5 separate regions of the Homo sapiens genome follow, and all the other regions are linked to region 1. Evidence: fine-mapped expression QTL. A gene starts in region 1. Each other region holds a variant in brackets. All regions are shown on one strand. Distances are between the middles of the regions. Region 1 holds the start of TBC1D30 (TBC1 domain family member 30). Region 2 overlaps GNS (glucosamine (N-acetyl)-6-sulfatase). Region 3 overlaps TBC1D30 (TBC1 domain family member 30). Region 4 has its middle 22 kb from the start of GNS. Region 5 overlaps GNS (glucosamine (N-acetyl)-6-sulfatase).

Evidence for each region.
Region 2: its variant is fine-mapped to the expression of TBC1D30 in whole blood (TOPMed, PIP above 0.99).
Region 3: its variant is fine-mapped to the expression of TBC1D30 in pancreas (GTEx, PIP above 0.99). The same link has a PIP of 0.9 or more in breast, esophagus mucosa and thyroid.
Region 4: its variant is fine-mapped to the expression of TBC1D30 in whole blood (TOPMed, PIP above 0.99).
Region 5: its variant is fine-mapped to the expression of TBC1D30 in whole blood (TOPMed, PIP above 0.99).

What each region holds. Positions count from the first base shown.
Region 1 is chr12:64,822,656-64,826,773 of GRCh38, forward strand. TBC1D30 (TBC1 domain family member 30) reads left to right here and starts at 1,992. Exons shown (of 12, transcript NM_015279.2): 1 at 1,992-2,378. The coding sequence starts at 2,225. RefSeq lists a silencer at 1,812-2,051 and an enhancer at 2,690-3,197.
Region 2 is chr12:64,710,061-64,714,176 of GRCh38, forward strand. It overlaps GNS (glucosamine (N-acetyl)-6-sulfatase), which reads right to left. Exons shown (of 14, transcript NM_002076.4): 14 at 3,389-4,116. Among named protein-coding and RNA genes, the nearest start is that of GNS, 47 kb to the right of the region's middle. The variant T/C (reference allele first, on the strand shown) is at 2,341.
Region 3 is chr12:64,874,273-64,878,390 of GRCh38, forward strand. It overlaps TBC1D30 (TBC1 domain family member 30), which reads left to right. Exons shown (of 12, transcript NM_015279.2): 12 at 729-4,118. The coding sequence ends at 1,516. Among named protein-coding and RNA genes, the nearest start is that of LINC02389, 7.4 kb to the right of the region's middle. The variant A/G (reference allele first, on the strand shown) is at 2,098.
Region 4 is chr12:64,779,278-64,783,395 of GRCh38, forward strand. It overlaps a transcript of TBC1D30 not described here. Among named protein-coding and RNA genes, the nearest start is that of GNS, 22 kb to the left of the region's middle. RefSeq lists silencers at 1,294-1,573, 1,654-1,753. The variant T/C (reference allele first, on the strand shown) is at 2,416.
Region 5 is chr12:64,729,960-64,734,077 of GRCh38, forward strand. All of the region lies in intron 9 of GNS (glucosamine (N-acetyl)-6-sulfatase), which reads right to left. Among named protein-coding and RNA genes, the nearest start is that of GNS, 27 kb to the right of the region's middle. The variant C/T (reference allele first, on the strand shown) is at 2,349.

The DNA.
Region 1 (4,118 bases):
GCCCAGCTAATTTTTGTAGCTTTTTTTTTTTTTTTGTAGAGATGGGGGTTTGCCATGTTGTCCAGGCTCAGCCATTGTTTTTCAAGTTCAAATTGTTTCATCTTTGGCCAATAGGAAGGAGCCTATTTATGTGACTCTTGTGTCTTTTTGACTTGACCCCATTAATTGTGAAACATTTCCTTTCTTTTTGAGCTCATCAAAATGTTTCAGGGTCATCTTGTACTTTTTCTGTCCCAAACCTGGAATCAGTCACTCCTCAAAGGAGCCTTAGTTCCTTTGAGTGGGGAATGGTTTTTAGAGACCATAACCTGGGTGCTGTGGGTGTTCATTGCTGCTGAGTTGTCCTTACTTCTAAACCTATTCAATGAATGTATGTATTTTTTTGAAAAGAAAAAAAAATGAGTTCATACTAGTGTTTCCCATATAAATATATAATTGTAATATTTTAAAGAAAACTTAATTACTTTGGTTATACACATATTTTCTATTACACTGAAAACATCTTGGCTCCATTTGATGTTAGCATACTTATTTATTTGCTTTATCCTGTAGTGGATATAAGAATTTAAGAAATATGAATATTATTAATAACAATAATACTACTGAATGAAATGTAAGGTTTCTTTGCAGTTTTATTTGCTCTGGGAATATGTACAACTGTTGATGTACAGTCATAATATTGTGTTCTATGTCAACTTAAGAGAGAATTATTTTTTTCTGTGTTCTTATGCTATAAGTGGGATAGTCCATTAGGTTGATTTGTTTCCATTAATTTTCAATTGTTAGGGTTTTCTTTTACAATTTAAAAATAATTTATTCATTTATAGTCAGGGACTAGGTCTGTTGCTCAGGCTAGAATGCAGGGGTGCAATCATAGCTCACTGCAGCTTTGAACTCCTAGTTTCAAGACATCCTCCTGCCTTGACTTCCCAAAGTGCTAGGAATACAGGTGTGAGCCACCGTGCCCAGACTATTTTATGTATTTTCAAATTTTATTTTTATTTTTATGTCTTTTTAAGAGATGGGGTCTCGCTATGTTGCCCAAGCTGGCCTCAAACTCTTGGGGCTAAGCAATTTTCCCACCTCAGCCTGCCAAGTAGCTGGGACTATAGGCATGCTGTTCCATCATCCTGGTTTTTTAAAAATTTAATTTGTTAATATTATTAATATAGTGTTATTCCAGAGCCAAAACTACAGGAGGCACATCAAGAGAGGACTCAGTTTTCCATTCTTGTCTCCTCCACGATGTTCCTTCTCCTATACAAGTTTTCTAATTTGTTTTTGGTTTATCCATTTAGTGTTTCTTTTTATAAATATTAGCAAACACAAGTATCTTTATATCCCCCCCCCACACCCTTTCTTTCATCCATTTTAATGGTAAATAGTCTATTGGTGAATATTGCCGTTTGAGAATGACTTTTTTTTTTTTAAACCATAATGATGGGCAATAGTTCAGAACTACTGAAGTCTGGCTGGAGAGATGAGGAACATTACTTTTTAATACTGCTTGAAAAGAGAACACTTTTTTTCTGGAAGCCCATTTTTCTAAAAGAAACAATAATTTTTTTTTCCTTCATTTTCTCCGCGCCTCTCTAATCTGCCAGGAAATAATTCAACGCAATTCGGGCTGAAGCGTGTGCCTCGCCGCCTGCGGTTGGGTCATGGCCCCTTCTGAGACTGCTCGGAAGTGGGAGAGGATGCTTGCCCTTACGGGTGTTCTGCCCCTGAGACTGGCGCCCCTTGGTGCTCCCTCTGTTCCCTCCCAGATCTTGGGAGAAGCACGGACATCTCTGTTTCTGCTTTTGGTCCCCGAACGCAGTTACGCGCCCACTGGCTCCCTGTCTCTGGCGCTTCTGGGCACGGGGGAGCTGGGGCGGCCCCGCCTGCGCACGGCGGTGCCGGGATTGGGGGCGGGCACGCCGCCTCCGTCTCCCACGCGCTCGCTCGCTCGCTCGCTCCCGCCCTCCCCGCCTCGAGCGATCTCCTGCCTCAGCCTTGCAGGCTCCGCACTGCAGATGCCTGCTGGCTTCCCTGCGCTCGGCGGCTCCCGCGGTGCCCCGTAAGTCCCCGTGACCCTCCAGCACCAGCCGGCTGTGCGCTCCCTGCTCCCACGGGCCGGTCAGCCGCAGACACTCACCCAGCTCCGCGAGCTCAGCCGCTCAGCGAGTGGGGTAGCGGGGACCGAGACGGACGGTAGCCGTGCCAGAGCCCGGGGCGCTCTCGGATGCGGCAGGACAAGCTGACCGGGTCTCTGAGGCGCGGGGGGAGATGCCTGAAGCGGCAGGGCGGCGGCGTGGGCACCATCCTGAGCAATGTGCTCAAGAAGCGCAGCTGCATTTCCCGGACCGCGCCCCGGCTGCTGTGCACCCTGGAGCCGGGTGAGGACCCCAGGGCTGCAGATGGGGCGCTGTAAAGTAGCGCCGGGGCTGCCCGCGCTTCTGCCTTAGCCTGACTCCGTCTAGGCCGGGGAGCTCTGGGGAAAGTCCGCGTGCCACCTGGTGCGGGGCACCGCGTTGGCACCTGCAGGGAGCGATTGGTCTGGAAGGGTAGAGGGCAGACGGGGGCCTGGGTGGGGCAGCGGCCACCCCAGGCGCGGAGAACCCGCTGCTTCCACCCTCTCCCCGCGGACCCCCACCCTGCGGCCTGTGTGCTCGGCTTTCTCCGCGTGGCGGGGAAGTGCGGGTGGCTGCCCGGGCCCTCAGAGGCCGCACCACCTATTGTGTTCCAGGCTCGCAGGAAGCCAGACCTTGCGAGAGGTGTGTGGGGGCGGAGAGTGGCACAGGTTTGACACTGCAGGTCGGAGGAGGAAGACAGTGGCTGCAAAGGCAAAATCGGGTGTTATTTTCCCAAGAGTCCCTTCAGCGTGAGTGCCGGGGTCAGCTCGAACTGGAGCCTGTAATTTGTGAGTGCGAGTGGGGAGCAGCAGGAGATCCTTTTCATAGGTGAGGTCCAGGAACGAGCCTGGTCGTGCTAGGCAAGGCCCTTCCCACTGTCAGCCTGTGTTTACCCATCCCTGCTTCTCCAGACTGCATAACTCCGTGTCGGCTCCATCACCCGGCATCCCTCCCCGGGATTTTAAGAGCCTGGCCCTAGCGCGGGCTCCTGGGCACGGAGGTTTCTGGCAAGGAGTGGCTGCAGAGGGAGTTGGCTGTACTCTCACTGGTGCTTGGCGCTCACCTGTTCCCTGGAGTGGCACCGGCTGCGTTCCAGGCGGGTTCACGGTCCCCGGCCCCCGCCCCCCAGCGCCAGCGCCTTGGGGACCTGCTGTAGAGCCGCAGGAGAATCGAGCTGCAGAGTCCCAAAGGGTGGGATGCGGCACTGCCTTTCCCAACCTCGTGGTTTCTTTGTTGTTCTCCCCTAGGAAGTGTCTAGTTGCAGAGGCTGTAGTATTTATTCACCATCTTCCTTTACCTCTTTTTTTTTTCTTTTAAATCTCCTTCCCACGTTAAAAGTAAGTGTTTTGTATTTCTGAATCCGGAATAGCTGTGATTATCAGATGAAACATAAACCTTCTCTCTGCCCGTATTCTGTTAGAAGAAAAGAAAAGTGGGGTGAAAGTGACCTGGTTTAAGCTTTTGCATGCAGGCGGCGAATCAATTTCAGTTAAATCCTCTTGCTCATTTTTGATCATGAGAGGATAGTTGTGGTTTTGGCCAACTAACCCCTGCTGGGTTTCACTATGAGAAGGCAATCGGCATGATGCCCAGCAGGTGCCCCGGAAAAGTCAGAAGAGCATATTGGTCAGACATACAGGGAATCCTTGTAGTGTGGCAAGAATAAGTCAGCGCGGGACCGAATTTCCTGGTCTTTGTTATCAAGCAAACGTCATGATTATACGCTCCTCCATTCAGCACCTCGCGTCCGGACAGCAACCTCACTTGTTTTCAGCGTGCCTTAAAGCGTGCGCTGGGCTGGAAACACTCCCGTGGCCGTTGTTATCACCGTTCTATGTTTGGGCAGGACTTCGTTTAAACCACCTCAGAGAGAGGCGGATCCATGTGGTACTTAATATTCCTTCGGAGAAAAAAAAAACTTATCTATCCAGGCAGAGTATGGTTATGGCCCTGAAGCTTTAAAAAGAAATATCAAGGCATTGATTGGATGCCTGGGATTCTCTG
Region 2 (4,116 bases), 110 kb before region 1:
GTGAGTTTCGATAAATTAAGCTGAGGGAAATAAATCTATCTTATGGAGCTGTTTTATCCTCCTAAAATGATAATTACAAGCATCTTTATATCTCTCTATCCTTTGAGAACCTATCATCATCAGTTAGAGGTGCAGGTTATGATGACATATATGGATATCAGTCTCACCAGCAGGTGATCATGAAATCTTCCTCTCAAAGACTAAGATTTAGAATTGTTAAGGCTGGGCGCGGTGGCTCACGCCTGTAATCCCAGCACTTTGGGAGGCCGAGGCAGGCAGATCACGAGGTCAAGAGTCGGAGACCATCCTGGCCAACATGGTGAAACCCCGTCTCTACTAAAAATACAAAAATTAGCCTGGTGTGGTGGCAGGCGCCTGTAATCTCAGCTATTCGGGAGGCTGAGGCAGGAGAATCGCTTGAACCCGGGAGGCGGAGGTTGCAGTGAGCCGAGATTGCGCCATTGCAATCCAGCCTGGGCGACAGAGCAAGACTCCATCTCAAAAAAAAAAAAAAAAAAAAAAAAAAGATTTAGAACTGTCATCTACTCTACCATACTCCAGGAGCTAGCTCCCATGTCCCACATCTAAATCTTGTCTTATTCAGTGATTCTAGGCCATCAATAGAGATCTCAGCACGATGCTTTTAGCTTGTATCCTTTGGGTTCTCTGGTTGTCAGCTCTTGCCTCAACAGACTTTCGTGTATACATATTACCAGCCCTTTATATCCACTGGTGGTGGCTGGGTGCAGTGGTTCATGCCCATTATCCCAGCACTTTGGGAGGCCAAGGCAGATGGCTCTCTTGAGCCCAGGCGTTCAAGACCAGCCTGGGCAACATGGCAAAACCCCGTCTCTATTAGAAATACAAAAATTAGCTGGGCATGGTGGTGTGTGCCTTTAGTCTCAGCTACTTGGGAGGCTGAGATGGGAGGATCAGTTGAGCCTGGGAGACAGAGGTTGTGGTGTGCCAACATAGGGCCACTGCATCGAGCCTGGGCAACAGAGCGAGACCCTGTCTCAAAAAATAAAAATAAATCCACTGGTGGTAGAGGAAGATGAAACAAACACTACTTCTGTAGGGAATTTGGTTCTACAGGGCAGGCACCAGTTTCAGTGGGAATAGCTGGGATAAGTTAAAAAAAAAAAGGATCTAATGGAGTCTGTATTTATCTTCATTCCGAGTCTATGCAAGTGAAGATTCTCTTCCTCCTTGTTGATGGCTTGACTGTGATGTAATCAAATTTCCAATGTTTAGGATGGTAATTTAGTGACTTTACGGGTGCTCTGTACCATCTTGCGTTTCTATTAGTATTTGGTCAGTGATCACAGGGGCTCTTCTTTCTCTGCCACCTTTCTCTAGTATTTAGACAAAGGCCAGACCAGGTAGCTCTCAACACTAAATCTGACCCGATGCTTAATCTTGTTATCCTTTCCCTTTTCATCACTTTAAGTTCTTGATGTCTTGTCTTGAAATATGGAAGGCCAGCACCCACTTCTCTTTCCCATGTTTCTTTTGGCCTTAGGTCCCAGGTAAAAAAAAAAAATCTCACTTAAGCATTTAGGTCTACAATTGCTATTCTTGGCCTGATCTAGCATTCTAGCCCTTCTGGAGGGGGAAGAAACATCCAGCCAGGTGATCCCCTGCTACTGAACAGTTGACAGCTGTTGGGAGAGGCAATCCACTATGAACCCCAAGCATCCTTGCACCTCCTTGCTGGATATGCCAAGAACACAAGGTCCTGACCGTTTTTTTGAGATAGAGTTCCACTCTTGTAACCCAGGCTGAAGTGCAGTGGTGCAATCTTGGCTCACTGCAACCTCCGCCTCCCGGGTTCAAGAAATTCTCCTGTCTCAGCCTCTCAGGTAGCTGGGATTATAGGTGCCTATCACTGCGCCCGGCTAATTTTTGTATTTTTAGTAGAGACGAGATTTCACCATGTTGGCCAGGCTGACCACTTTTTATGCTGGCCATTCCTCAGGGTTGTCTGTAGTGAGCAGTTTGAGGGATAAGTTAATGTCTCCTTCTGGAACAAAGAGCAGCCTCGCTCAGTGCTTGCTATAAAACAAACAAACAGCAGGCTCAGCTGGGTGTGGTGGCTCACACCTGTAATCCCAGCACTTTAGGAGGCCGAGGCAGGTGGATCACCTGAGGTCAGGAGTTTGAGATCAGCCTGGCCAACATGGCAAAACCCCGTCTTTACTAAAATACAAAAATTAGCCAGGTGTGGTGGTGTGTGCCTGTAATCCCAGCTACTCAGGAGGCTGAAGCACAAGAATTGCTTGAACTCAGGAGGCGGAGGTTGCAGTGAGCCAAGACTGCGCCACTGCACTCCAGCCTGGA[T/C]GAAGCCTCCCCAAGCCTAATGTTCTTTTCCTGTAACAAAACCCACTGCATGTGCAGGCATCCCTCTGGGCCCTTTGCATCATACCTGTAGGACTTGGGTGTTAAGTGTGAACTGACAGGCTCTTACTGCTTGCTGTGCTGTACTACAGTCCTTTGTCTTTATCCCAGGAGTCTCATGAAATAACAGACCTACTTAATTAGCTTGCAAGAAGGGTACAAATCCCAGACCCTAATAAATGACCTTAAAATTGTGATATATCCAAATCCCCTATTATTTTTCAGTTTTACAATTTAAATATTTTTTATAGTGACAGAATGTCGCTATGTTGCCCAGGCTGGTCTTCCAACTCCAGAGCTCGAGTGATCCTCCTGCTGGGGTCTCAAAATGCCGAGATTAAAGGCGTGAACCATTGCCCCTGGCCCAAATCACCTGTTTTTCTGATAGTAATCTGGCAATTTTATGAGTGTCTAGCATTGTTTTCTATGTGGTCTTCAGAATTGCTAAGATATGAGGCAACCTATAAGCTCTGGGGTTGGCAAATTATGACCTACTTGTTTTTGAAAATAAAATTGTATTGGAACACAGCCACACACTTATCCATTTTCTATGGCTACTTTTGTGTTATAACAGCAGAGGTAAATAGCTGTGACAGTGAACACATGGCCTGGCAGCCTAAAATACTGGCCGTCTATCCCTATAAGAAGTTTGTTGACCCCGTAAGAAGTCATTCCTCATCTAGAGCAATGGATCACATGGCAAAGCACCTTTGAAGGCGAGCCTAGTCTGTTTGAAAGCCAGCCAAGATAAGACTTTTTCTCCAAAGCTGTAAATACATACAGATTTATCAGGAAATATTTTCTACATGGTGCTTCATTCAGGGGTTATCAGTAGGGGCCATGTATGTAAGAGCTATACAGGTAGAGACTATAGGATCTGACTAGAAAGCCCATTTCCAGTACTAGGTGAGTGATTAAAACAAACTGCATCAGAAGAAAGCATCTTGTCAAAATTACTACTTGTGAACTAAAACAAAGGACACATTCCCACTAGAACAGAAATAAATTTTAATTCATTGAAAAGTGCAGCAGTGAACAGGGTCCTTTTGAAGGGCACTTTCTAAGTCAAATGACTGAGATGACACAGAGCAAGGGCAGAATAGGAACAGAGGATGCAAACACAGGAAGTTACAAAATTCAGTGGGAACTAAGTGGTGGTAAAACTCAAGAACCCAACTCTACCCATCTAATTCCATTGGTGGATCAGTTGAATTAACTTTTGCTTTCTTTAGGATGAATCCTGGGACAACTTTCCTTTAAAAAAGCACTAAACCTTAGTTTAGACACTTAATAAGTTTAAGAACACTTCTCACAGAATAAGGTAAAACTTCCATGGCTATCATTACTATTTTGTACAACAGCCCTAGTGTTGTCAATTAAAATGTGTTTGCAGGCCGGGCACGGTGGCTCACACCCGTAATCCCAGCACTTTGGGAGGCCGAGAAAGGTGGATCACCTGAGGTCAGGAGTTAATCAGCCTGGCCAACATGGTGAAACCCCGTCTCTACTAAAATTACAAAAATCAGCCAGGTGGGGTGGCAGGCGCCTGTAATCTCAGCTACTTGGGAGGCTGAGGCAGGAGAACTGCTGGAACCCAGGAGGTGGAAGTTGCAGTGAGCCGAGATCACGCCACTGCACTCCAGCCCGGGTGACAACCGCGAGACTTCATCTCAAAAAAAAAGTGTTTGCAACAGCACCATTTGTCAAATTCAAAGATGC
Region 3 (4,118 bases), 52 kb after region 1:
AGACAGGGTTTCACCATGTTGGCCAGGCTGGTCTCGAACTCCTGGCCTCAAGTGATCCTCCTGCCTTGGCCTCCCAAAATGCTGGAATTACAGGCATGAACCACGGCACCTAGCTGAGGACAAAGCTTTTGGTGCTTTTCAGTTTTCAATTGGCTTTCGAAGTCCATTGAGGACACAGGAGTGGTTTTTCACCTGTAGGGCTAGATGCTGGATAGCTGTGATTTCACTGCATTCTCACTACCTTTTTATCACTTCTGTCATTCTGCTGGATCTCACTTCATAATATGCAGTGTGTTCTTTTCCTACCTCTCAGAGGCTGACAGATGATAATCCATATGGTCATAGTGTTTGTTGTATTATTTTTTTTAAATCTGCAAAGATTTTTCTAAGTACAGTAACTCAGAGGTTGCTACTCAGAGCCAAGAGCTCTCTGTAAAAAAAAAAATTAGGGAGTCCAGGCTCTGATTAGGAATGAGGGGTCAGATGTTCCTTTTTGTATCATCACCCTGTGGTCCCTTCCTCTTTAAAGAAGAGCGCATTGGTATTCCAGGCTCTTCGGTTGAATTCAGTTTCTGCTGTCTTCAGTCACATGACTCTGCCCCTCCCTGGGGAACACATGGGAAGGGATGTGGTAGACGGGGCTGGGAGGACCTCTAAGTGATTTCTGTTCCAAGATGGATGTGTTTCTTTGTGGTACACTTCATACTACCTTTCAACATTTCTTTCAGACAAAGGGCCAGTGACCAGCATTCTCCCGTCTCAGGTAAACAGTTCTCCAGTTATAAACCACCTTCTTTTAGGAAAGAAGATGAAAATGACTAACAGAGCTGCCAAGAATGCTGTCATCCACATCCCTGGTCACACAGGAGGGAAAATATCTCCTGTCCCCTACGAAGACCTTAAGACGAAGCTCAACTCCCCGTGGCGAACTCACATCCGAGTCCACAAAAAGAACATGCCAAGGACCAAGAGTCATCCGGGCTGTGGGGACACCGTAGGGCTGATAGATGAGCAGAACGAGGCCAGCAAGACCAATGGGCTGGGGGCAGCAGAGGCATTCCCCTCTGGTTGTACAGCGACAGCTGGGAGAGAAGGCAGCAGCCCTGAAGGCAGTACCAGGAGGACGATCGAGGGGCAGTCTCCGGAGCCGGTGTTCGGAGATGCTGATGTGGATGTGTCTGCAGTTCAGGCGAAGTTGGGAGCCCTGGAACTGAACCAGAGGGATGCTGCAGCTGAAACTGAGCTCAGGGTGCACCCACCCTGCCAGCGGCACTGCCCAGAGCCGCCGAGTGCACCCGAAGAAAACAAAGCCACCAGCAAAGCTCCCCAAGGCAGCAACTCAAAAACCCCCATCTTTAGCCCTTTTCCCAGCGTCAAGCCCCTGCGGAAATCTGCTACTGCCAGGAACTTGGGATTATATGGCCCTACAGAAAGAACCCCAACTGTGCACTTTCCTCAAATGAGTAGGAGCTTCAGCAAACCCGGCGGTGGAAACAGTGGCACTAAAAAACGATGATGTCTCCCCGAAACTTTGTATCTGGACTCACCTTTTCACAGTAGTATAAGGGTTGCAGCTGAATGGCTCTAAAAGAGTTTTATTTGTCCAGTGAAAATGAATAGGTTCAGGGATGAGCAACAGCCCATAAAAAATGGGAACTGGAAGTTTTATAATAGGAGTTAGAACAGGGCTGTTTTCCCAGCTACTTGCTAACTGACGAAGTGGATTCTTGTGGCAAAATAAATATTGTGGTTTTATAGTGTGAAGTTTTCCCAATTTTTCATTGTGAGCTGTTTAAAAAAGACTATATCTAGATTGTTAACTCTCGTCCATCCTTCTGTTCTGGGGGCCTTCAGAGTCCCTGTGACAGCACCCCCAAACCTTCCAGTTCTCTGGGTGTTACTAATACTCAAGCATGCACATACCAGCTTGCTAGGACAGAAACTGTAAAAAGAAAGTAAGTTTCTTCGTTACAAAAAACTTCCTGATTTTCCTTTTCATGCTTTACGGAGGGGATTGTGTCGTGTGAGATTTCCCACAGTACCAGTTTCAAATTTTTTTTTTATTCTTATGCTAAATCATAGGAGAAAAATCTAGAT[A/G]GCCTTTCTTTAACTGTCTATTTCTACCTGCAAAATGAAGAAAACCTTTCATCTGTTGAAATTTCAATCGATAACCCAGCTGAAGATCTTATGCACAGGACACACTTGGCATATGCTTTACGCAGTTGCTCCGGACAGCTTGCTCGCGCCACTGAGCTTTTCCTGAGGTTTGTGTTCGCCTCTCAAGGAGAGCTTTGATCCTCAGTGGTACGGATGACTTGATGGGCTCCATGCGGAGCCTGGCCTGCATCCCCCACCACACAGCTCACTCACCCACCAGCTCTAGACTGCAGACGCACAAGGCCTCTGCTCAGAAGCCAGAACACAGCACCTGTGACTCTGTTACTTGAATTTTGTGCTTTTTGATTGGAGTCCTTTGTTGAGTACTTTGTTAATTGAACACTGCCTTTCTCTGGAGAAGGCCCCAGTGCTTTCTAGCTCCCTCTCACTCCTGCCCTTTCTAGCTCTCTCTCACCCAGCGGGTCAGGGATAGCACCTCTTGTCTCCACTATGCAGATGGGAACTCTGAGCCACACAGAGGTGAAGTAGCACTTCAGTTACTCAAGGTCAGTACTCTCGGTATTCCAAGTGACTTAGCCACATTTCCTTCAGTGCAATAGGTGGGTTTAATGCTCTTTGTACACAGATGTATTGGCTACATAGCGTGTAAAAACCAAGACTGGGAAGCCATTCACTAAAATCCCTCCTGACTCAAAGGACCTGTCTCCAGATGGTACAGAGTCCCTTGATGGCATTTTACAAAACCAGCTCTGACTTCCTTATCCTGAACAGGGAGTTTATTTTAAAAATGCTTCATGCACCTGTTATTTGGCTGAACAGAAGGCTCACTCCTCAATCCCCTTCTCCTCGCCATCATTAGAGGAATAGACTCAGCCTTCATGTTTGTCTCTGGAAGACGATTGGCGATACTTGCAGGAATATTGTTGATGCAGCCAATATTAATTTGAGCTAATGGATTGTTAATTCTGAAACGAAAACTGTAACTGTAGAGCAGGCTTTTACTATGAGAGGTACTACTTTTTATAATAGAGAATGTGGTTGTGTGGGCTTTTTTTGAACAGAAAACACAACAATGACCTATACCGTGAGAAAAGCCATTTTATCTTCTTCGTGGTATTTTTACCCCCAAAGGAACTGAAGATGGAAAATATGACTAATAAGTTATTGCAGTTTTGGTCTTGAATTCTGTGCCATCTGAAGTTAGCATCCAGCTTCTTAAAAAGCAGCCACGCCTACAGCCTGTTTTTTGGGAAGGCTGTAGGTGGAGAGATGGGCTTATTTTGCATACCACCCTCAGGGCCCAGAGACCCACTGCATTTTCCAAAGTTAAGCAAATGACACCATTTTCTTCCATCAGCTAAACTTTACAGATAATAGTGTTTCCACCTCATATCCTTTTCTTTGCCCCTTCTCAAATGAGTCAGAATAGTCATGTTCCCCTTGAGGGATGTCTGACTTGAATGGAGAATTGTTCTTTCCTCTCTTGAATCAGCTCACTAGCTCCCTGATGGTCTGGGTTCAAGGAAATGGTTAATGAGGTAGAGGCCACTTATACAAGTCCTTGGGATTGTACCATTGCTGTCCACAAACTTAGTATCAACAACACATGCTGTGCCCTGTGAACACTCTCCTCTCACCTATTTCCAGGGTTGGTCTTCCTGAGAAGGGGATGGATGAGGTAACACACAGTTTGGGATACGTATCTGTTGAATGAATGAATAAGTGAAAGGATAATAGTCCTCTGAGGTAAAAATGGCCTTGTCAGAATTTTGAAAATCCAACAGATTCCTATTAAAGCACTCTGTGTACCAATAACATGCATGCATTGTACCAAGTAATCACAATGTGAATTGGTCAATTTATGAGCCTTGCCTACTTTAGAAAATAAAGAAACCTGCAGTAGCCTCTACCACACAGCATGTACAAAGACCAGTATGGACTTGCTATCTTCCCTATGTATTGGACACTGTATGCAAACACCAGAAGTACTTAACAAGTAG
Region 4 (4,118 bases), 43 kb before region 1:
AACTCGTTGAATGCCAGGGACAACAGGGAAAAAGACCTCAAAAAACAAAACAGCAATATAATAATGAATTCTACTCTCATTTCATACATTTAAACATTAAATGGTAACAATAGTCATTAATATAGTTATAAAACCATAAAATAATATTTCCAGTATAATTTAAAATTCCGAATACCTAAGCGAAAAGTACAACTTCTGCTTGTCTCATATTAACTCCAGTTTCAAAAAGGGCCCTTTTATTGCAGTGCTGGTGTCAAGGTACACCAGATTTCTACCGGCAGGGTCAGGCTCTATTATGAAAGTGCCTTGGAAGACAAAACTGTGCTGAACAAACACGAAACACCAGTGTTGTTCACCAGGTGTGTTGTTGCCCCTTTTGGAAGTGTGGTCAAGTATTTAATAGCATTTGACTAATATATATTCATCCATAATGAAAGCCAGACACTTTATGAAAAGTTCACTTTATTCTTTGTGAATGGACACGTTATTTAGCCTCTTCGTGCCTCAGCTCCCTCAGCTGAAAAGTGAGAATATAACGACACTTAACTGCTTTATAGGGTTAAAGTGAGGATTAAGTGGGATAATTCATGCAAATCTCTAAGAACAGTGCCTGACATACAAAAAGCGCTAAACATGTTGCCAATTATTAACTTCACAAAAATATCTACAGTGGAGCGGCAGTTCCGAGTTCTATTGAGGTCTAGTGTAAGATACATCTCTCACAGTATCTTGTAAATTTTTGATTCTACCATCATCAAAACTAGCTCAATTAATGTATCAGTTCGGTCATCTCAAGAACATTTATTAAACCCTCACTCTGGTTACATCTTGTATCAGGGAATTAGTTGATTTTAATCCAGTGCTTTGGTTTTCACTGGAGGAAAAAAGTTCACAGCGTTATTAAGTCCCAGATATTTGCCAGGTGTTCAGAGTTTTAGAAAGCTTATTGTCAGAGACTAAACTAAGAAGGCTTTTGAAGGCGCTCAGATCAGGTGGGAAAGTGAGAAGGGCTGGTATTGTGTTCCGAGTATGTCAAGAAGGAGCTCCTGGCCTGGGCCTATTGATGGGCGTTTAGAACCCTCCTGGGCATTATTTCTAGCTGGCGGCTGAATAAGAGGCAAGAGTCACCCTCTTTTTGAGTTAAATCACGTGCTTAATTAAAAGTGAAGGTGGCGGCGGCCTCAGCGCCCTCCCCCTCCGTGCTGCTGGCTTCTTCCCAACGGTGTTCTGGCCACGTCCTGCGCCTTCTCGCGCACGGGAGAGCGCTCTGGGTAGAGGCCGGGCCCGGGCAGCAGGTGGCCCCAGGTAGCTCAGTGGCGTGGCAGTCTCCTTCTCGCCCGGTCCGGAGCGGAGGGGAGCGGCTCAGGTGCCGGCTCGGGGGAGGCCCGGGCACCTCGGGGATCCAGAGCCCGCTGGCGCCGCGCCCGGGAGGGCACCACCGGCGAGGACGAAGCCGCGCCTCCTCCCGGAACTGGCCGGCGCCGCGAGGCGGGAGGAGCAGCGGGAGCCGGGCAGCCGCGCGCCGGGGACCATGGACGTCCTTCCCACCGGCGGGGGCCGCCCGGGGCTCCGGACGGAGCTGGAATTCCGCGGCGGCGGTGGCGAGGCGAGGCTGGAGAGTCAGGAGGAAGAAACGATTCCTGCAGCTCCCCCAGCCCCGCGCCTCCGGGGAGCGGCGGAGCGGCCGCGGCGCTCCCGGGACACGTGGGACGGCGATGAGGACACGGAGCCCGGCGAGGCGTGCGGCGGCCGCACAAGCCGCACGGCGTCCCTGGTGAGCGGGCTGCTCAACGAGCTGTACAGCTGCACAGAGGAGGAGGAGGCGGCGGGCGGGGGCCGCGGGGCCGAGGGCCGCCGGCGGCGCCGCGACAGCCTCGACAGCTCCACCGAGGCCTCGGGCTCCGACGTGGTCCTGGGCGGCCGCAGCGGTGCCGGCGACTCCCGCGTGCTGCAGGAGCTGCAGGAGCGACCGAGCCAGCGGCATCAGATGCTGTACCTGCGGCAGAAAGGTGAGGGCCGGGCGCAGCAGGGTCCCGGGGGCTTCCTGGAGCCGGGTTGTCCTCGCCGTCTCTGCCCGCGCTCCAGCGCGCACCTGGGCTGCTCGGCGGAGCGCTCAGATACTGTCTCTTTGGATCTGACGGTGGTACCCACCGTGGCACAGATTTATGTCCACACTTAGTTCTTAAGTTCTCCGGAGTAATTGAATCAAGCGTCAGTTGATGGAGTGGGCAGTTTCCCCGCTCTTCCCTCCTCCCATCTCCCGGTGTGTTCGCGGAGGCCCCAGGGGAGAGGCAGCCCAGATTCTAATTTCACCTGAACAGCTGTTAGGACAGGGTTGGAGGTTCTGATACGTATACCTGACCTACCTAGAGGGCGCCGCCAGAATCGAGGCGAGTCGTAGGGCTGTTCTTTCCT[T/C]TTTTTTTTTTTGTTTTTTTGTTTTTAAAGTCCGCCTTCTCTGGTCACACCACTTAGTGTTTAACTAGTGAGGCAGAATAATTCGATAATGCGGTTTCGAAGCAGAGCGTGTGAATTCTATTTCTGCCAGAGCGTACGGTTCCAGGCAGCTCACTAGGAATTTTTGTTGTTGTTGTTTTGTTTTCTTTTTTTCCTTCTCGGTGGCAGGTTAGTGGAGGGCCCTAGAGTGTTGAGGTTTATTACAGAATTTAACTGCTGGTACCTTCAGTTGGCATGGAGAGGTCGACCTGAGAAAATGGCCTTGGCTTTCAGGGAGAGAGGCTAATTTGGTGTTTCTTTTGTTATGAGACTCTGATGCTCGTGTCTTGAGCTCGTGTCACACTTTTTTTTTTCATCTGGTCATAATAGCTTGCCTTTCAGGCAGTAACACAGTTATTAGAGTTGTCTTTTTTGGTATAGAAATATCAAGACCTCCATTTACAAAATGAGGTGACGTATGGAAAACAGATGCCGAGCCACCATAACATTTCTTGACAGTAATGTCCTTGGGCTGAGTTACCAGGGGAGGGAGGAAGGAGAGTCTCCCATCTCCTCACTGTATTAAAAAAAAAAAAAACCTAGGAAAAGAATAAATCTGTCTGCTTTCTCAGACCTACGTAAACAGCTTTTAGCTTCCTCTTTTGACTTCCTAGTGAAGATTTTTTTTTTTTTTCCCCAGCTGATTGTTACAGATAGCTTCCAGGTTCCTCCCCCTGCCTGGGACTTTGGCTGTAGCTGTGCCATTTCATTTTATAGAATTATTTGGTTGTTCTCAGAGTGTCTGTGTATGCCACAAGTCCCATAGGGCAATAGTTCTTTCAGACTCCAACAGAATCAATTTTGAAGAATTATGATTTCTCTTTTTACAAGGTTTTACATTTTTCATCACCGAGGGAATTCTGGGGATTAGTAATTTCCTTTTTGAAGAGGAAAATTGGCAGACTAAAGTTTAAAGAAGTAGTAACGGTACAGCTAACTATGCAAGTGGATTTCATATGAGTGGCCACACAACTAACCATCCACAAGCCCTGTAATAGTTCGTTTTGCCTGTTCGGTCTTATTGCATAGCTAGTTGCTGGTTAAACCTTTCTTCCCTTGTAGTCAACCCTATTAAGATGAACAAAATGCCATATCATAATAGTCCTATACACACATATGCGTGCTTACGTGTGCACACATACACACACTAACATGCTCCCTCTCCCCTTTATTGATAACATCATTCGCGTGCTAAGATTAAAGTATCAGGTGATGATACAGCTGTCTGCGTAAAGAATGCTGCTTATCAGGTTATTTGATCTTTTTCTCAGGCTCAAAAAATATTCCCCCCAATATAACTACTCTGCATTCAGTAAGAATGTCATACAATACTGATAGCCTGTGTATTGTCTCCTCTCCCTGCCAGGGATTTTGCTGTAGCACTTATTTAGCTATATATTTAACATGTGTAGGTCCTTTAGGTGAGGCACCAGAATGGTTTCTCAGGACATCTGGGCTCTCTTCAGTATTTCCTTGGTTAAGGGGATGAATTTTGGAGTCAGACTCCTGGGTTGATATCCGGCCGCAGTTCCTTACCAGCTGTGTGACCTTGGACAAGCTATTTAACATCTCTGTGTCTCACTTTCTTATAAATAGGGATAATAATAATACCTACCTCAGAGGGC
Region 5 (4,118 bases), 93 kb before region 1:
TCACAATAATAATACATCTCCATTTGGACTATCCACATTTCAAGTGCTCGACAGCCACAAGTGGATAATGCAGGCCTAGAGAGAATGTAAGCATAGAAGTCACTTGGTCACAGGCTAGAAAAATCTTCAAGCACTGAAACAATCCATTGAGCGAAACAAAGAGGAAGTGAGAAAAACTGGGAACTAAAGTTTACTGTGCCAGGCATTTGACATTTATTCTCATTTATTCCTCATCACAGTCCTTGGACACAGTGTTTATAGGTGAAGAAATGAAACACAAATCACTGAAGCAAAGTTATCAGCTTATAACTGGAAAAGCCATTACTTACTGACAGGAAGTAACAGTCTTCAAAACTGTTGAGAACATTTAGATCATCTTAGGAGAGGCCAAACAGGGAGATAAAACAAAACAAAAACACCCCAGCCCTGCCACTTTTAATTTAAAAACAAAACCAAAAGTACAGATATGAAAGGCAAAAAAAAAAAAAAAAAAAAAAAGCTTCAGAATATTATCAGGGGCCAGGTTTCCTGATGGCCAGGACAGCTCTTAGAGGGCAGAATGATAAATATCCTGGCCCTGAATCAATTAGTCTAACTCTGCAGCTGTCAGGTATTACTGCCCAAAGGCAGGCACTTCAGGAGAAAGGCAATCCATATGTTACTCAGTGGGGGAAAAACCTCACACACAAAAAACGATGTCTCCAGGGATGATACAAGACCCACTGTTACAGATAATTTTCCTGGTTCGAAGACCCCCAGGCAAACTGAGCAGCTTGGAAAACAGTCATCAAGTGTGAATGTCAATATGGAAGAGGTCACAGCAGGAAAGGAGGGTCAGAGAGAGATACCATCTCCAGAATGAGATCAAGACAACAAGCCATCTACAGACCCTGAAGTGTGACTAACAGATCTTCAGTGATATCTGTAAAATGAATGAGGTGAAGCCAGTTCCTCAGATACTACTATGATGTCCAAGGCAGTTTTAAAAGAAAAGAGGAAACATAAAAAAACCCAGAGATATAAAATGGTGACTGTCATCTCACCAAAAATTGCAAGAGCCACCACCTGTATAATGGGAGGCTTGTTCCTTTTTTGGTGAGGTGGGGGGAAGCTCTTTTTTGTTTTGTTGTTTTTTGAGACAGGGTCTCATTTTGTCACCCGAGCTGGAGTGCAGTGGCACAATCACAGCTCACTGTGGCCTTGACCTCCCAGACTCAACTGATCCTCCTGCCTCAGCATCCAGAGCAACTGGGACTACAGGTACACACCATGATGCCCAGCTAAATTTTGTATTTTTTTATTTTTCGTAGCAATGCCATGTTGCCTGGGCTGGTCTCAAACTTCTGAATTCAAGTGATCCGCCTGCCCTGGCCTCCCAAAGTGCTGGGATTACAGGCGTGAGCCACTGCACCCAGCCGAGGCTCTTTCTAATGGCATTTTGCTCTCTGGAGATAAAGGGGTAAGTTCCAGTATAAATCCAAAGTCACTAAGATTCAGCACAAGTACCGTAAGCACAAGTCATTCCAGGACTCCTTCTCCCTAGAAATCTATAATGATCACACTCCCCTAAATATAATGGATAAAATGTCTCCTCTTCTAGAATTTTATTTGAATAAGCGGACAGTCTCAAAATTAGCATACTATATCAGGAGATGGGAGACTTCTAGCAAATACCAAGTATGAATGAAGAGTTAAAAAGAATTATACCTACCTCTGGTTTTTATATAACCAAGAATTTGGATGGATTCACCCATCAATGTGATGACTTTGAGAAACACTAGTTTCACAGTATTGCTTTTGTCTAGTATAAACTTAAAAATTCATTTAAGGGCTGGGCACAGTGGCTCTCGCTGGTAATCCCAGCACTTTGGGAGGCCAAGGCAGGAGGATCACTTGAGCTCAGGAGGCCAAGGCTGCAGTGAGCCATGTTTGAGCCACCACATTCCAACCTGGTGAGAGAGCACCTATCTCAAACAAACAAAAAAATCATTTACGGATTGGAACAGAAAAAGCTTTGACAAGACCAAAAATATATCTATTTTTTGAGACAGATTTTTTGCTCTGTTGCCCAGGCTGGAGTGCAATGGTGCGATCTCGGCTCACTGCAATCTCCACCTCCTGGGTTCAAGCAATACTCTTGCTTCAGCCTCCCAAGTAGTTGGGATTACAGGCACCTGCCACCACACCTGGCTAATTTTTTTTTTTTGTTGTTTTTTTTTTTTTTTTGAGACGGAGTCTCACTCTGTCACCCAGGCTGGAGTACAGTAGCACGATCTCAGCTCACTGCAAGCTCTGCCTCCCGGTTTGATGCCATTCTCCTGCCTCAGCCTCCCAAGTAGCTGGGACTA[C/T]AGGCGCCTGCCACCACGCCCAGCTACTTTTTTTGTATTTTCAGTAGAGACGGGGTTTCACCGTTTTAGCCAGGATGGCCTCGATCTCCTGACCTCGTGATCCGCCTGACTCAGCCTCCCAAAGTGCTGGGATTACAGGTGTGAACCACCGCGCCCAGCCTCTTTTTTTTTGAGATGGAGTCTCACTCTGTTGCCCAGGCTGGAGTGCAGTGGTGTGATCTTGGCTCACTGCAAGCTCCGCCTCCTGGGTTCACACCATTCTCCTGCCTCAGTCTCCCGAGTAACTGGGACTATAGGCGCCCGCCACCACACCTGGCTAATTTTTTGTATTTTTTAGTAGAGACGGGGTTTCACTGTGTTAGCCAGGATGGTCTCGATCTCCTGACCTCCTGATCCGCCTGCCTCGGCCTCCCAAAGTGCTGGCATTACAGGCGTGAGCCACCGCGCCTGGCCTAATTTTTGTATTTTTAGTAGAGACAAGGTTTCACCATGTTGGCCAGGCTGGTTTCAAATTCTTGACCTCAGGTGATCCACACCTGCCTTGGCCTCCCAAAGTGCTAGGATTACAGGCGTGAGCCACCATGCCCAGACAAAAAAATAAATTATTTGATAAATCACTTTCTCAGGTTGAGAATGTTCTTAGGATTTAAGTATATAAATATCCTAATCAAATGAAAGTCCTTAGAAAACCCTGGGGTAGACTGGCTGTGGTGGCTCATGCCTGTAATGAGGGGAGGAGGGCTGATTGCTTGAGCCCAGGTGTTCCAGACCAGCCTGGGCAACATAATGAAACCCCGTCTCTACAAAAACAAACAAACAAACAAAAAACAAAAAACAAAAATTAGCTGGGCATGGTGGTGTGCACCTATAGTCCCAGCTACTCAGGAGGCTGAGGTAGGAGAATCACCTGAGCCTGGGAGGTGGAGGATGCAGTGAGCCAAGATTGTGCCACCACACTCCAGCCTAAGTTACAGAGCAAGACCCTGTCTCAAAAAAAAAAAAAAAAAAAAAAAAAAAAAAATTCCTGGGGCTTAAATCAAAGGGTATCATGCATTGAACCTGCTTATTCTTGCTCTGAAAGAATGACACTTGCATAATTACTGAAAAGAACAAGATGGCAACGGGCTCTCAGAACACATCAGGTTTCCAGACACCCAAACCCTGATGTTGAATTTCTGTAGAGTTATCAAAGAAAAGGCTCCAAACATACCAGAAAGCACCCCAAATCCATTTAGTGAAAAGCACTGTAACTACATGAGAAAGTGCAGAATCCCATATCTTGGTTGCTTCAGCTGGACTTGCCCCTCAGTTCCAGCTTTCCTGACAAGGAAGAAGCTGGGGCATCACCTGGTTCCACCTGATAATGGAGGCTTAACATCCTCTTACTTTTACAAAAGTAGGGGAACCAAGGCTGATTTTGTCCAAAGCCAACAGGTCGTCTTCCTGACTCCCAGTTCAGTTCTATTTCCCTGGGACGGTGCTGTGTCATTCTAGTTTTCCTACTAACCTTTTCCTTTTTAGAATTCCTTTTGCAGAACTTCTACCACCAAATCTAAAGCTAAACTAGTCAGAGGAGAAAACGTCAATAGTCAATCTTTGACATCTACACATATGACCTTGTCCCATTTCTCCCACACAGCTTAAGTCCACCAGTCAGTTAAATGTGCACTGATCTGGCTGTCAAGGCTGCTGACAGCTCAGCTCATTATGCCCAACTCACAAGCCTGTGCCACTCACACAGAACAGCTGGCACTGAGACAACTATGCTGC